2 separate regions of the Homo sapiens genome follow, and region 2 is linked to region 1. The links come from fine-mapping of genetic effects on gene expression. A gene starts in region 1. The other region holds a variant in brackets. All regions are shown on one strand. Distances are between the middles of the regions.

Evidence for each region. PIP is the estimated chance that this variant, and not a neighbour inherited with it, causes the effect. A credible set is the group of variants that fine-mapping cannot tell apart.
Region 2: its variant is the best candidate, but not a certain one, in a credible set for the expression of P2RY2 in esophagus mucosa (GTEx, PIP 0.50).

Annotation. Positions count from the first base shown.
Region 1 is chr11:73,216,364-73,220,363 of GRCh38, reverse strand. It overlaps P2RY2 (purinergic receptor P2Y2), which reads right to left and starts at 2,083. Exons shown (of 3, transcript NM_002564.4): 1 at 1,932-2,083. It overlaps LOC124902709 (a long non-coding RNA gene), which reads left to right and starts at 2,171. Exons shown (of 3, transcript XR_007062773.1): 1 at 2,171-2,337. RefSeq lists enhancers at 812-1,530, 1,531-2,249 and a silencer at 1,963-2,172.
Region 2 is chr11:73,194,455-73,198,971 of GRCh38, reverse strand. No RefSeq gene overlaps it. Among named protein-coding and RNA genes, the nearest start is that of IUR1, 14 kb to the right of the region's middle. RefSeq lists an enhancer at 14-308. The variant C/G (reference allele first, on the strand shown) is at 1,831.

The DNA.
Region 1 (4,000 bases):
AGCCAGAGAGCGCTTTCTGAAATGCCGCTCTGACCATGAAACACCTCTGCTCATAAATTTCCATGGCTCCCTATTGCCTTCAGGATAAAATCTCTAGGTCTTTAGCCTGGGCACTCTAGGTCCTACAGTGTCCCAGATCACACTGTTCTGGCAAACTGTGCCACCCACTTTGATAACCAGATTCTGGTTTGCCCTTCTTTGTAGTGACATGGAGCTCCCCTGCAGCCGGGCCTTTACTGGAGAAGCTGGTGCCAGAGACAGGGGATGGGCGCCACTGCTGCTCTCTCAGTTCAGCTCAGCCCTGTGCAGGGTGCTGGCAACACAGAAATAATAAGACCCAGTTTCTGCCCTCCAGGAGCCCCTAGACCTGGGAAGAGGAAAGGAGGAGACAGACATAGATCATGACGGTTCAGGTGGGACCAGGGCTGTCAGCCCCAGGCCTGTAGGGGCCTAGAAGAGGCTCCAACCCAGCTGTAGGGATCAAGGAAGGCTTTCCAGAGGAGAGGACATCTGAGCTGGGTCCCAAGTCTGGGTAGTTCTCCAGTTGAGGAAGGTGAGAGTAGGAGGGCTTATCAGAGAGGGAGTGTAGAATATGCAACAGGCCAGGGGCAAGAAATGAGAGACTCCAGGCAGCTGCTGCAAGGTAAAGAGTCAGGCGGGAGAGGTGGCTGGAAAGGCTGGCAGGCCCCAGTTATCAAATACCTTAAGTCCCAGGCTACAGGGTTCAGGCTTGGTCCTGTGGAAGGCTTGTGCCCTAGGGAGGGGCACAGTTGGGATTCTGGTTCTGGGAGGCTCCTTCCAGGGACTGACTTCCCATCCCCAAGCTGTGAGCCTGCCCATGGGGGGACACTGGTGCTGAACATGACACACTCATCAGCTCCTCAACAGCCCTCAAATTCCTTATCATTAGTCCCTTCTTACAGACGAGGCCACTGAGGCTCAGAGAAAGGACGGCTTGCCCAGGCCACACAGTGGCCAAGACAGGATTGGAACATAGATCTCTGAGTCTCCAGAGCTCTCTTGTGGACCTGTCTGCTCAGAGAATCTTCTTCCTTCCACTTCCACCCACAGGTAATAAACTTGCCTGGGTCTCCACCCAGATCCTCAAAACTCATAATTATTTCAGCTTAGATCCAAAACAAACCAGGCAGATCAGGCTGTGGTCCTGGGAAGCTGGGGATGCCATGCTGAGAGGAACAGCAGCCATGGACCCCACAAATCCCGAGCTGGCAATTCTGGTCTCCAGCAGTCCCCAACCCTTGGGCTGCGCTCCTGGAGGACCCCAAGAGGGCCACTGGCAGCCTTCGGGTTGGGGGGTGGGGTATCGCCTTTCTCCTGACTGACCCTTTCTACCGCACCATTTGCCAGATTAAAAGCCCGGGGACAGAGGCTTAACTGTCCTTTCTGGCCACTCCCTCCTCCCCCGCCCACTCCCTGCAACTGCCCCCTCAACATTACCAATGGTAGGTGGCCACCCAGAGTGACCCTGGGGTTAGGACAGTGGTAGGGGGTCTCCAGGGGTTCGCGTCTCTGGGCACCGGCCACCGCCTCACGCCACGGGGACGCTCACATCGGAGCACACACAGACAAGTTCCGCAGGCTTGGCCAGTCGCCCCGAGGGGCGCACACACTCACCCGCTAACACGCAGACCTCCCCAGTACGCTGACGCGCACAGCCTCACTACTGGGGCGCCCGTCCACACTCACCGAGACCGACGCTCCCGTGGAGACAAAGTTCAACCACGGACCCACAGGCGCGTTCAAGCCGTCCAGTTATGCGCTACACGCCGGCTCGCAACTGTGCCCCGGGGCGACAGCCGCTCCACAGCGCCCTCCCCTGCCCCGCGCCCAGTCCGCACCTGCGCCAGTCTGGCCCGCCGCTTCCCCGGGCCTCTCCCAGCGCCTTGTTCCCTCCAGACGCCCCACCCCACCTCTCGCCACTGCGCTGCGCTTCTCCTCTCAGGGTGCCGTCGCCGCCGCTCCCGGGTGCCAGTGCCCGGGTCCCGCCGCAGCCGCAGAGACCCACGTGCCTGGGAGCCCGGCTACCCACCTCCCTGCGCTGTTCCCCAACCCCGAAGCCGGGCCAGGCAGGGGGCGGGGCGGACTTTTGACTGACCCTGGCACCGCCCTCAACCCGCCCGGGTAGACACCGCGCCACCCGCTCCGGGACGCCGCCCAGCGACAAGGCCGCGGGGTCAGCGTGTCTGTACCGGTGCTGCAACGGGAGGGTCGGGCGGCGACGCTCTCACTGCCGGGCCAGAAGGAGGCCTCCCGGCTCCCTCACGCTAGAAGGGAGCTGGTTACCAGAGGTTTTCAGAGACGCCAAAGTTTTGCCAGGTCAGCCCGGTGCCTGCGTGGCCCACTGCGGGACCTTTGCGCCCAGCCACCGCGCCACCCTACCCCTGTCCCGCCCCTGCCCCAGCCCGGCTGGCCAGGAAGGGACCTACTGGGAGATACCTGCTCGGAACCCCAGGCTAAGGACGTACCTCCCTTGCTTGAAAGTGGGGGAAGGGGGTGCCTCTCTCCATTACCGTGGTTAGGAAAGCAGGGTACTCAGGATCCCGCCTCTCCCGTGCTCCCCACTTTCCCTGCCTTAATCTTATCAGCAGCTCCCTGAACTCCCCACTCTGGCCCCTTATCTTGAGCTGCTTTACCTCTCTTCTCTGTCGTCAACCCCACTCTAATGGCCTTCCCTGGTCGGGCTACCGGCTGCATGTCTGACCCGTTCGGAGACTGTGAGCTCCCGAGGGCAGGAACCAGGTCTGCCTTCTTCCTGCTGCTGTCCTAGAGGTCCTGGGAGGTGCTCAATCCTTGAAGGTGTGAATGGATGAATGAATGAGCACCCCGCCTCTCTCTCATTTCTGGTCTAGGAATCAGGAGTGTAGGTTCCTGTCTGGCTTCAGCACTGACTCTGGGAGACCTTGACCCAGTTCCATTCCCTGGCAGGGTCTTCTTTCCTGTGAAATGGAGCCAATCGCTCCGCTGGCTGGACAAGTGCAGAGGAGGCCTCTTCCTGTAGCCAAGGAACTTGCCCCGGGCCTTCGGGGCCTTGGGCCCTCTTGGGCTCCATATCAGCTGACTGGGCCTGGCTGCCAGGAAGGGTGCTGGCTGCAGCCCCACCAGGAGCAGTAGCAGAGTGGACACACAGCCCATAGTGGCTGAGCCGCCTCTGCAGTCCTGCTGGGGCCTTTGCTTGGGAGACACAAAGGCCCCTTGTCTAGCCTCCTGCGCCTATTGTCTAAGCTGGGCCACGCACCTTCCAGGGACCTAAGTATCCTCATAGCCCGAGTTATAGGGCCTAGGCCTTCAGGTTCCAGTGTGGGGAAGACCCTTTGGGCACTGGAACTCCAGCCAACCCTCTCTTTCTCTCCCCTCTTCCAAAACTTCAAACCTTATACTGTCACTGCCATTTAGCCCAGGAGAAACAAGTTTCTTTGACGCCAAGTTGAGGACCCAGGCTCGACCTTAGCCTTCAGCGGGCAAATCTGGTTGGTGGCCTGCCCAGGGCTCTGCCCCTGCTCTGGCCCAATTCCCTTACTTTACAGCTGAGGAAACTGCATTCCTGAGACATACAGCGTTTCAGCTACCACACAGGTGACTTAGTGAGGCTTGAGGAGCAGAGGAAGGGGCCTAGTCCTTGAACCCCATAGCCTTGGGTTTAGATTCCAGTCTTACCTCACCTGTCCTATGACTCCTCTCTGAGCCTGAGTTTCCTCTTTTGCAAAAGGGAGTAATACTAATCTCTCACTTGCTGGCCTGTCTTAAATTTTTTGAGAAAGGGCCTCACTCTGTCACCCAGGCCGTAGTGCAGTGGCATGATCACAGCACACTACAGTCTCTATGTCCCAGGGCCAAGGGATCCTCCCATCTCAGCCTCCCAAGTAGCTGGGAATACAGGCACATGCCACCATGCCGGGCTAATTTGTAAATTTTTTGTAGAGATGGGATCTCCCTGTGTTGACCAGGCTGGTCTCAAACTGCTGAGTCCAAGCAGTCCTCC
Region 2 (4,517 bases), 22 kb after region 1:
TCTCATGGGTTCCCACCATACAGACTGCCAGGGGGTACTGCCCCTTCCATCTCAGTGATTGGAATGCATCCTTTGAGTAACTTCGCCATGGAGAAGTCTGACAATCACTCCCTCTGTCATGTGATCAAGCCTGTTATCAATGGTGATGAGTCATGCTGATGGAATGTTCCCTTGATATAATGCAATGAGAGTGGCACTTCACCTCTGTGACCTTCCTCGCAAGAACTCAACCAAGTCTAATCATGAGAAAACCAACAGCAAAGCCCAAATTAACAGTCTGCACAATACCTGATGATGAATACTCAAAACTCTCAAGATCATCAAAAACCAGGAGAGTCTGAGCAACTCTCTCAGACCAGGAAGAAAGGATGGAGGCATGATGTTTAAGTGTAACGTGGCACCTTGGATGGAATCCTGGGACAGAAAAAGGACATTAGGTAAAAACGAAGGAAATGTAAATAAAGTATGGATTTTAGTTAATAATAATTTACTAATACTGGTTCATTTGCCGTGGCCAATATAAGACGTTAGCAGTAGAGGAAAGTGGGTGAGGATATACGAGAATCCTCTGTACCATCTTTGCAACTTTTCTGTGCATCAAAAACTATTCTTTTAAGAAGTTTGTCTACTTGTTCTAAAATTTTATTTTAAATTATTATCCTTAAAAATTGCTTCCTTAAAATGGCTGTAACAGGCTGTTCAGATAGAGGTGACAATGGGGACATGAATGGGGTGGAGTGTGACCTACTAAACAGTTTGTTGTGTAAGGTATCATTTGTTCTCCAGGTGCTAACTGACTCCAGAGTGAAACATAGGGCCTTGCCTGATCTCCACCCTCCCCTTCTAGTTCCTGACCTGCCTCTTTTTGATAGGCCCCTGACTTGGGGACATCCTTATAGACACCAATATCTTCAATATCTTCAAAAGTGCAGACTATGAGAGTCAGGGTCTGGCCGGGCACGGTGGCTCGTGCCTGTAATCCCAGCACTTTGGGAGGCCGAGATAGTGGATCACCTGAATTCAGGAGTTCGACACCAGCCTGGCCAACATGATGAAACCGCATCTCTACTAAAAATACAAAAATTAGCCGCATGTGGTGGTGTGTGCCTATAATCCCAGCTACCCAGGAGGCTGAGGCAGGAGAATCACTGGAACTTGGGAGGCAGAGGTTGCATTGAGCCAAGAATTGCCACTGCACTCCAGCCTGGGTGACAGAGTGAGACTCTGTCTCAAAAAAAAAAAAAGAGTCCGGGTCTCTCTTCTGTAGCCATAAGATCCTACAGCAGTTCTGCTTCCCAGGCCCTGGATCACACATCTTCCCCAGGGCACTTACACCAGGAAGAACTTTAGATGAGCCATTTCACTGCCTTCCCACAGGGGTGCGGCCTCATGGCCCCATGGTTATGTTCTAAGTCAACAGTAGAATGACATCTTAATCCAGCATAATATCCACTGATGCTCCCGCCCACTAGCCAGGGGCCATTTCCTCCTCTGCTGAGTAGAGAAGGTTGGTACATAAGGGCATCACAGACACCATCAATTTGCTCAGAAGGGCATCACCATGGCTTCGACTGGCAGGATAGTGGTTAAGAGGAATGATTTGGAATAGACAACCCTACATTCAAATCCTGATTCTATCACTTATTCGTTTATTTAAACCCTATGACCCTCAGTTTCCACAACTGTAAAATACAGGTAATAAGGTTCTGGACTATTGAAGGTATTGGTAATCCGGAATGTCACTGGCAGAGGGTCTAAAAGTCTCTCCTCTGTGGTTTCCATCGTTTACCTTTTGAAAGTTGAATCTCCAGGCCAGTGCAGTGTCTCACG[C/G]CTGCAATCCCAACACTTTGGGAGGCCGAGGTAGGCAGATCACTTGAGATCAGGAGTTCGAGACCAGCCTGGCCAACATCGTGAAACCCTGTCTCTACTAAAAATACAAAAATTAGCTGGGCGTGGTGGTGCACACCTGTAATCCCAGCTACTTGGGAGGCTGAGGCAGGAGAATTGCTTGAACCCGGGAGGTGGAGGTTGCAGTGAGCCGAGATTGTGCCACTGCATTGCAGCCTGGGCAACAGAGTGAGACTCTGCCTCAAAAAAAAAAAAAAAAGAAAGAAAGTTGAATTTCCAGTCTCCTGGTGTTTGTGTTCTCTCTGAGTCCTCGAAACTCTCCGACAGTGGTTCTGTGAGCACAGTAGTGGGCTCCGCTGTGGCTAGGGGTGCAATTCAGCTCAAAACTCCTCTGGAGCAGCTGGGGGAAGGCCAGGAGGGTCTGATACTTGCCCATCCTGACATTTTCACCCCTAACCCTCTGTCAGTGACATTCCCTGTCATGTCATTTACCTGAAGGTTTGTGAACCTCTGGCAAGTTGCGGGGAGAAAGTAAGCAGGAGAAAGAAGCAGGGGTTCACTGGCTCACCAGCCTCCCTTCTGTTCTAACAGTGACCAACAGTGGAAAGAGGACGAAGGCTGTCAATGCCATTTTGGGGAATCATATTTGAATGATTACCTTGTGCTAGGAACCTTGAGCCTCCCTTTCCCGAGCCCTTGGCTCCCAGGTCAAGTGGGAGAACTCTTATAATTCTTTTGTGTCTCTGAATCTTGTCTCCATAATCAAACTAGAAATTACCCATAGGACATATTTCCTTCTCTTCTTGACTCTCTTTATCAAATGTGACCTACAAACCTACTGTAAATATCCCCAGAGAGATATATCATTCCCTGGGTAAGGAAAACTATCGTTGCCATTGTCAGTGGTGAGACTCCATAATCACTATCAAGAATCACTACCTTTACCACATCATCAACCATCATAGCAAATTCTGCTCTCCTCAAAGTGCCTTTAATGATAGTTGTAATTTATTGAACACCTAGTATGTGTCAGATACTGAAACAAGGGCTTTCCATGTATAATCTCAATAGAATTATCTAAAGTCCGTGTTCTTAATAAACAACGCTGTTCCAGCCCTGGTCCAGGAGTGTAAAACCCTCCTACCTTTTGCTGGGAGCGTTTGCATGTGCTGTTGTTGCTGTGTTTTTGCCACTGTGAACACTGCACATGGACAGGCCCTAGAAGACCATCCCAGGGTGTGTGGGAGCCCCTGGGGTAGGGGGACAGACCTGGGAACCTGAGCTGGGCACCAAGCATGCCAAAGGTCTCAGCTCTGCCCATGAACTAAGGGCTGGCAATGACCTTGGAACCAGAAGCTGGCATAACCAGAAAATCAGTGAAACTCCACTAGAAGACAGGGACTTTAAACAGGGCTTCAGGCTCCTGTCAAAACTCTTGGATGGAGCTGATAAGAAGTCCACAGCCTGCAGGGAAATGGCACCTGCTCCCAAAGCCACAAGTCCATTAGTGATACAGAAGCCAGCAAAGAAAGAGAGAACTGGCTGGATCTTGAAGCCAGCAGGGGGAGAGGAAAGGATGACAATGGATTTGCCTATGGCCAGACTTGACTCAGACAGTTACTGGTGAGGAGACTGTCACAGAGGAGCACTCAAGGTCTTGTGCATGCCTGTACCCAGCACTCCTTTATATTTTACAGGGCTGTCATCAGGTGACTCATCACTGAAACCGCCCCATGTCTATCCCAGTGCAAACCTGCCCGGAATCAGGCACATACCTACAGAGGCCAGGGAGGTCCAGGAGGTCTAAGACATGAGCCAATGTGACATGAGCTCCTGGAGCCCTCCAGTGTGCCAAACATTAGCCCTTTCATTGAAGGACTGTGAGGAGGCCCAGGCAGTACACCAAGGGGCAGCCAGGGTGCTGGAGCACTTGGAGGTCTCAGGGCTGCTACAGCTGTGCCATTGTGTACTGACTGCACATCAGCTCCAATTATACCCTGGCATCCAGCACTGTGCCTGGCACATAGTAGGTGCTTATTGGGCACACAAATGAGAGGGTGAAAGGTCCCTGCCCTAGAGGCATTCACAGTCTAGCAGGGGAGACATGGCACACTGCAAACCCGTGAAGAATCTTCCCCAGTGGTAGCCTTGGATTTTGGCCATTGGATACCTTGAGGTAGCGAAGTATGTCCAGGACCAGGTGGAGGGTGGTGCGTGGGGGGTGGTGTGAGCGCAGGCTGCAGGGGAATGCTGCGTGCATGCATGCACAGGGCTCAGCTGTCCCAGGAGTGCTAGGGAACTGCATGACTCAGGACAGGGCGGCAGGCTGAAGGAAGGGTGGGACGACCCAGGATAGTGCCAGTGAACCCATGGGGAACCAGTCTCAAACCTGCCTTCCTGCTTCCCTTCCTCCGTCCACAGTTTACTGCTCCGGGCAAAGTCTGCTGCAGTTCACAGAGAAGCAACAGCTTTGATGGCATCTGCAACCTAAGTCATAAAGATCAAAGTGGGATAAAGCTGGAGTGAGTTTCTGAGTTCCAAAAATAAGTAACATCTCAGAGGTTACTTTAAAAAATAGAGGCAGCTCAGTGCAACAGAAGGAGCTTGAGCCTCAGCATTAGACAAATCTGAGTTAAAATCCTGGCTTAGCCACTGTAGCACCTACACTT